Linked DNA regions of Homo sapiens. The protein of the gene in region 1 interacts with the protein of each later gene in a pairwise test. Each region holds a gene or a part of one and is shown in the gene's direction. Other genes may lie near its edges.

The links. Proteins that work in one complex are often made in the same cells at the same time.
Region 2: the proteins of TSPAN2 (region 1) and MFF interact in binary tests that used the Homo sapiens proteins (3 or more experiments, as listed by UniProt).

Annotation. Positions count from the first base shown.
Region 1 is NC_000001.11:115,082,884-115,086,638, reverse strand, and holds part of TSPAN2 (tetraspanin-2), read left to right. Parts: intron 1-3,755. UniProt on the Homo sapiens protein: May play a role in signalling in oligodendrocytes in the early stages of their terminal differentiation into myelin-forming glia and may also function in stabilizing the mature sheath.
Region 2 is NC_000002.12:227,349,101-227,352,855, forward strand, and holds part of MFF (mitochondrial fission factor), read left to right. Parts: intron 1-3,413; coding exon 3,414-3,473; intron 3,474-3,755. UniProt on the Homo sapiens protein: Plays a role in mitochondrial and peroxisomal fission. Promotes the recruitment and association of the fission mediator dynamin-related protein 1 (DNM1L) to the mitochondrial surface.

The DNA of each region.
Region 1 (3,755 bases):
CACAGTAAGGAAAGGAAGTAGGAGCAGTGCAGTTTTAAGTGCTTGAATGTGTTAACCAGTGAGGTTAGATCCGACCTTCTCTATATGTGATCTAAGTAAGGAGTTTAGAGAAAGGATCACAGTCATGATGAGGAGCCAGAAAAGTTCTCCTTAAGAAGGAGCTATTCGAGCTAAACCTGGAAGGACTGGTAGAATGGAGCTGGGCAAAGCGAGGGGGTGACGCACCATCCACCAGCAGAGGAGCAGAGCAAGGGGGAGTGTGCGCCACCATCTGACTGTCGAAGCCATCAGGCTGGAGTGCAGAGATCCCAAGCAGGGCGTGCCTGCACAAACAGGGTGTACTTGAGCAAGTTATTGTTACTTCTAGGCTTGTTTTCTCATCTGTGCTATTGGAGTAACAGAAATATTGAGAGGATTAAGAGGGAATATATAAAGTATGTGACCTCAACTTCCTATGAGCCTAGGACATAGTAAATGCTCAAAAATATTAATTATTATTTTTGTTATCGGCACATAGGAAGCATTCAATAAATGTTAGCTCTCTTTCTCCTGATTCCTTTCTTGGTGGGGAATAGTATATAAGTTTGCCAAGTGACTTGCCATTTGTCTTCATTTGAGGATAACTACACCTTATCTTGTCAATTTGTACTTGTGGATTTTCCCCACTAGAACTTAAAACACTCTGAGAGCAGGAATTTTGTTTTTTCTGTTTTGCTCATAGCTGTATCCCCAGTGCTAGAATAGTGCCTAGCATATAGAAGGCATGCAGTAGGACATGAAGGACCTTCCTCTCCCCCAGTTTCATGGGGGGTGGGGGTGGAGGCAGCAACTAGAGCGAAGAGGCAACTGAAACAGGCACCTCATGACTTAAGGGAAAGTGTGGGATAAAGTATCTAGATATCTGCCTTCACTGTAACTGAGGGAACCTGATTCCAGAAAAGCCCCACTCAAGTTTCTAAAGTTGTTTTTTTGTGGTTGGAGGGCTTCGTGGGAAGTTTGGGAAAGGGGTGGGGGATAGTTTTCCTAGAAGGCCAGACTTTAGCTGTGACTGAAGTATAAATTTACACACACCCTTAGAAGCTCATGTGCCTGCCCCTCGGAGTTACGGGGTTCCTTGGGTGACAGCACTTCCTTCCAATCAGAACCTCGCCAGAAGTAAGCATAGAGGTGGGACAGGTTCTGTTTGGTGATCTGCGATTTAACAGATCAATTTGCAGCCTCCTCTGGCAGCTTGCTTTAAGTTTCCCTAGGCTGTGCTCCTGGTTTCATAAACATACAACCAGGCCCTGCCAGAGCCAGCACAGTATTCCCTGGCCCAGGGCCGCTGACTGTACTCACCACTGAATTTTTAAAAACAAAATAAAGCCTAGCCATTAACCCCACTACATTAATTTCTCTTATCGTGGTTGATGTCAAATGTGAAACCCCTCCCAACATCTGTCATGTCTAAATTCAGACCTGCGATCAGATAGCACAGCATATTCCTGTGCCTTTCATTGAAATCACCTTTTTTTTTCCTACGTTGCATAGCAATATAAATAAAACACTACACCCCCACCAAGCCGCATATGTTGGCTTAAAGGAAAACCTGGGCGCTGTTTATTCCTTGGTTTATTGTTGTATGGTCAGTGTTTTCCTATCATTGTGCTGCACTAGCTGCTCAGCGTTACTGACCCACAGGAAGCAGAGCTGTTCATTGTTGAAAAGCAGATTCCATATATGGCAAGTCTGAAGTTGCCCTCCTTTCCTTCTCACCATTATTAATACAGCTTTGGGTTTTCACTTGGGGATGCCTAACAGGTACATTTAAGAAAGACAGTGTCTTGCAGGCTTGGGAGTCAAAGAAGTTTGACTCACATGAATCTCATAGAGGTCACCTTCCACTCTTTCCCAAACTTATTTCAAACAGTAACTTCAGAGCAATCACCTGTCAGAGACATTGGTTTAGGAAAAAATACCTAAAGAAAGTATTCTTTGGAGACCAGCCCATAAGGCAGATAGGAATGTTCTCAGCCTCGCTGGAGGAGAATCTTCATTTCTGATTTTTGTCAAGGTGGAAAGAGAGTACCAGGGGCCAGTGTCCCCTAGTGTGGACCTAGAATTGCTAGGAGGAACAGATAGCCTACAAGAGGGGACAGTCTGAAGAAGCCACAGCTATGGTGCCAGGGTTCCGGTAGACCTCGGACAGACCTATGCAGCGTGGCAGTTCAAATCCAGGAATCCAAAACCTGGGCAGTGGATACTGACATCATACTGCCTGACTCTATTCCTGCCTCCACTCTTTACTACCTAGGGGACTTTGGGCAAGTTGTTTAACCTCTTTGAGCCTCCATTTTCTCATCTGTATAATGGACATAATAAACTACTAATATCTGTGAACTTTGTGCACATAAAATGAGTTAATATATGTAAGGTTATAAGTATGGTTCATGCATACAGTAAATAATAACATATCAGTAATAGTTGTTTTTAAATACTAGAAGTACAAATGGGAAAGTAGAATCTAGAATCCAAGAGGTTCATAAAGTCACAACAAAGCAGGCAGGTGTTTTACATCCAGCTAAGCAAGCAAGGTAGCAAGAGGCTTGGAGTTTATCAAGGGCATGGAGTCAAAAGGAGAGATCACTTCCTCCACCGTTCCCTGCCAAGTGCTGGGAATTCAAAGATGATTAAGACACAGCCCTTGATCTTGAGGCACTCATGCCTTTATTTAGCCTCCATTTTGCCTTTGATTAGAATTTATTCCCTGTTTAGTCTTTGCTCCTTGAGGGCAGGGACTGTGTCCTTTTGGCATCCCCTTTCTCCCAATCCCTCAGTACCTAATAGAGTTAAGCATGGCTCCAGCTAAGGTAGTTGTGTGCACTGACCCTGGAGCAGGATCTGTTTATTTCCTTTCCCACTTCTGTGCTACTAAGTGGAGGCCAAGGAAAAGCAATGGGAAAACCTTTGGTGATCAGTGCCTCTCAAACTTTAACGTGCGTACAGATCACATAGGGAGCTTATTCAGCTTTATTCGGATTCAGTGGGTCTGCATTTCTAACAAGCTCCCAGGTGATGCTCGTGTTGCTGGTCTGGGAACATGCTTTGAGAACCCCTGTTTTAGATGTGGCCTGAAGAGGTCAGAGATTCAGCAGTGGCACTTGTTTCTGACTGAAGCAGGGTGTGCCCTGCTTCTTGGCTTACTCACTTGGCTTGTTTTTGGCAGTTCTTTTAATTTCAGTTACCACTTTACCTTTATTAAGTCTCTTTTTTACGCTAATACTTGATGCTTTCTGGAATTACCGGGAGGCCACCTGTCCATTGTTCATTGCATTTCACCTTGTTGTTCTAGAACATCAGCCATGAAGTGTCTTTGGGTCTCCAACCATGTGTGACAAAAGAGAACGTAACCTCTATCCCCCAACCTTGACAGTTAATATCGCGAAGCTGCTCCCTTAAAACAAGTGATGCTATACTGAGCACTGAAACAAATCATGTCATGGTTGCTAAGGAATTAAAGAGAGAATGCTGCCAGCAAGATGGAAATACCAGATGGGCTGGGAGCACATCTTACAGATGAATTAACTCGGGTTACCTTGGCCTGCCTTTTTCATCCTCTTTGAATTTGATTGGGAACAAAAATAACAATGCTTCAGTTTACGAAGTGCTTTCATATGCGTTATCCCACCTGATCATGAATCACAACAATCTCACGAAATAGTGTAATTATTCCCATTTTACAGTTGTGAAAGCTGAAAGTCAGGCACAGTAGGTGG
Region 2 (3,755 bases), on another chromosome or scaffold:
TTTCCAAATCTTGTATAAAAAGTAATAATAGCTAGATGGCAGAGTCACAGTACATTAAAATTATATGTCCCAAAAAGTAAAAAAAGAAAAAAAATTATTTGTCCCAATTCCCCCTCACCAGCATATACACAGTTCATTGCAATAATGTGGAACTTATAAAAATATGGATTTTTTCCTCCATAATGGAAAAAAAATTGTGCCTCAGAGTCAAATGTATAAAATCAAAAATCGTATTAGTATAAACTTTGTATTTTTTTAATAATGAAAAATATTTTTGGACTTTCAGTGAAATTTTATTTCACTTTTTTACATTGTGATGAATTGATAACTCTAAAATCCCTTTTCTGGGAAGGAATTCTCTTTTCTCATTCATTTCAGTAAGTTTTTAAAAGTTCATGAAGGAGTTATATTAATAATGCTTTTCTCCTAGATCTGTAGCATTAGTTGTTACCTTGGAGCTTGGAGGGTTAGATTCTCATCAGTCTTATTGACGCTTTCAGTATTGAAAGGATTTTTTAAAGTTGTATTCACTTAGGATCTCAGTGTTGAGCAAGATTTTATCAGAATTTTAAGTGCCAAATCAGTTTTTATTTCCTTTGTGAGAAGTATCTGGCATGACTTTTCAGATATAAGAAATAGGAATGTGAAATTTGGATAATGTTCTACTTGCATGATTATAAAATAATACTGCTTATAAAATTTTAAGTGCTTCTATGTTCCTTGCTCTGTAGATCATTTTTTCTTTTCTATTTTATTACTCTTGGCTATTATGCTAATGCAATACCTTATCTTTGGTCATATGCCATCACATTAGGTGTAGTTAATTTAAACTAGAACTATTTGGCAGAAAAAGAAAAAAGCTTTCTGCTTGCTTTATCACTATGAAGTAATGCAGATTCACAATTCCTTGACATAAGAACTGTGTTCAGTTTACATTTTAAAGGACGCTGTCAAAAGGTTTGTGTACCATATATTTTTTTCTTACAAGAATGTAGATGATCTAAACCAAACTCAACGTGAAAACCAAGTTAAATCCTAGGTACATGTTAGAAAAGTTTATTTACACAGGTGAGTGTTACGCATTTGGAGAACTGATACACTGAAAATTTACCAAAGCACCAGGTGTGTCATTTGCTCAGGTGCAGCAGAAATTAAAATACTATTATGATTTGGTCCTTAACTGGTTAGAAAATGCCGGTCTCTCCCTGTATCTGTTAGAGCTATGTATCTCATTTTACAATGTAAAATATTCGCATCTTCAAAAAGAAACTTAGTTCCTGTGTAAGAACCTTATTTAAATATTGATAGATGAGTCATGCTTAGCTCTCATTTTTACGAGGGGCTTGATTATTTTTATGCAGTTTTTCCTTAACAGATTGTACCAGCTTTGAGTGCATAGAATAAGAAACCAATGTATGAATAATTTATATTTTTGGCAAGTATCCCTATAAATATACAGCTTGGAAGACCTAGAAATCCAGAGTTGCAGTGGATACAGCGTTTGTTATTTATAATTTTTCTCTTTAAAAAAGTGTATAATTCCTGATCCCCAATTAAACTTTATTTTCTGTAGCAGATTACATTTTTATAGCAAAGAAACACATATTCTGTTACGTCAGAGTGTATTTACTCAAAAAATGTCAGTACGCAAGTTAATGGCGGAGCTTGGTGGTAGCCTTGGATTTCTTTCCCTTTTGCCACTCTACAAAACATACTGTTGAGAAGATTTTATGTATTAAATCATACTTATCGTAGAAAATGGTACTTGAATGAAGTTTCTAACTTTGCCACATACCTGTCTAATTTACTTTTACAATATATGTGTCAATTGCCAGTGTGAGAAGACAAAATGAAATACGTTGTGAAAGGTAACTGTATTATTTTCTGGCTCTGCGTTATAAAAGGGAAATCTCTGTGGTGGAATAGGTTGAATATGACAGACCCATTTGAACATACTGTGTGCATTTTAAAAAGCTTTAGGAAGCACACAGTGATGGCTTCATCTAGTTAACCATTTTCATGTTAGTGCAATTTAAGATTGTAGTTAAATAACAGGTTTCCTAATGCCACAGAGTAAATATGTTAGTAGGATGAGATGAGTTAAAGACCTGTCTTAAGCATATGTGATTTCTCCATGTTTTTTAGCCAGTAAAATAAAAGTCAAACATGTTCCCCCAAAAAGTCTCTGAATCCCTTATCATCTAGGCTCCAGAAATTTCTTTAAGCACTGGTAGTACCTTTAAGACATGTAGAAGTTAAACATTAGAATTTTCTTACATGAATTGAATTATCAGAAAATAATTTGTATTGTAGTCAAAATTCCACAGCTGTGCCAACTTACAGAAAAAATTAGTGCATTTGGTATTAAACATTTACCATTATATAATTATTGTCTTGATACTTAAATTCAGGCAAAACCAGATCAGTTACTTAGAGAATGAGATATCCAAAATAGGATTTAATAATTCTTCAAATCTTTATATGGATCCAACACTCCAGTCTCCTTTCTCTGCTTAGTAAATATTGCTGATTGTTTTAGGGGGAATTGACCAGTGAACACTTAGAAGCTTTTGTTTTCTGATTTTAAAAGATAAAACGTATTGGAAAGGTTACTGCTTATCAAAGTAGAAAGCTAACTGTCCTCTAGCGCCAAAGTATATACTGAGAATGAGTGGAAATCCCCACCAAGTTTCCCATTGCACCTTAGTCTTCATTTCCAGCAGCCCTGTATGTCACTCCTGGCTGTCTCAAGATCAGACTCAAATTGTGGATTGCCCTTCCTGTAATGTGCTCTAGCACGTCTCCTGATCTCAGCTTCAGAGTGGAGGCTTGCATTTTCACTCTGGAGAGCTGAGAGTTTGAATGAGACACAGCTGCAACGAGACATCAGGCACTACTCAAAATTAATGAGGTGGGAGGGAAGGAAGTGTGGGAAATGGAGTTTCTTGAAATTTATGAATACGGTTTTTGAGATAGAGCTGTTGATATCAGATGAGCAACTGTGGTCATACCGGTGCAGCTAACCAGGTCCTGATATGCTTTTAAAGGTGCTAGTGATTTTTTTTTTCCAACTGGAAGAAAGGAATTACACTTTTTAAGCAGAGTTGTCCTCTGTCTTAAATTTCATAAAGTAAAGCACCAAGAAAATTATTTTATATGTTGGTGCTGTTTTGTCGTGTAAATATAGATTCCCTTTGTTTCTTTGATCAATAGTAATGTTGAGTTTATGAAAATGATAAAATGGAGGACACATGAGACAAGGATTTTTTAAAGTAGTTGAGAGATATTATATTGTATTGAAATATACAATATAATCCTATTTGACATTTATTTGTCTTGTTTTTGCTTTTATTTTATTACTTCTCTGTTTCCTGATTCTGTCTTGTGCCTTCTCCCGCAAAAACCTGCCTTAGACCTGTGTTGCGTGGTGGGTCTGCTGCCGCCACTTCTAATCCTCATCATGACAACGTCAGGTAAATTTTGAGACTTCGTAATTACCAGGGTAAATGCTTGGCGGAATTTGTGTGTTGCAGGGCATGTTGCATGTCGTAGCCATGCCTGTGTTTGTAGCTGAACTTGTTTCTACAGCTTTCCTCGATGAGTACATCTTGCTTCTCTCTAAGAACAGTGAATAATCAGTCATGACATTTGGCCAATTAGTATGAGGGAAAATGTTTAATAATTATGGTATGATGTGAACAGCTATTTTATTTAAGTGTAGTGTTAATAGTTTATAGGTGGTTTATAATAATTTA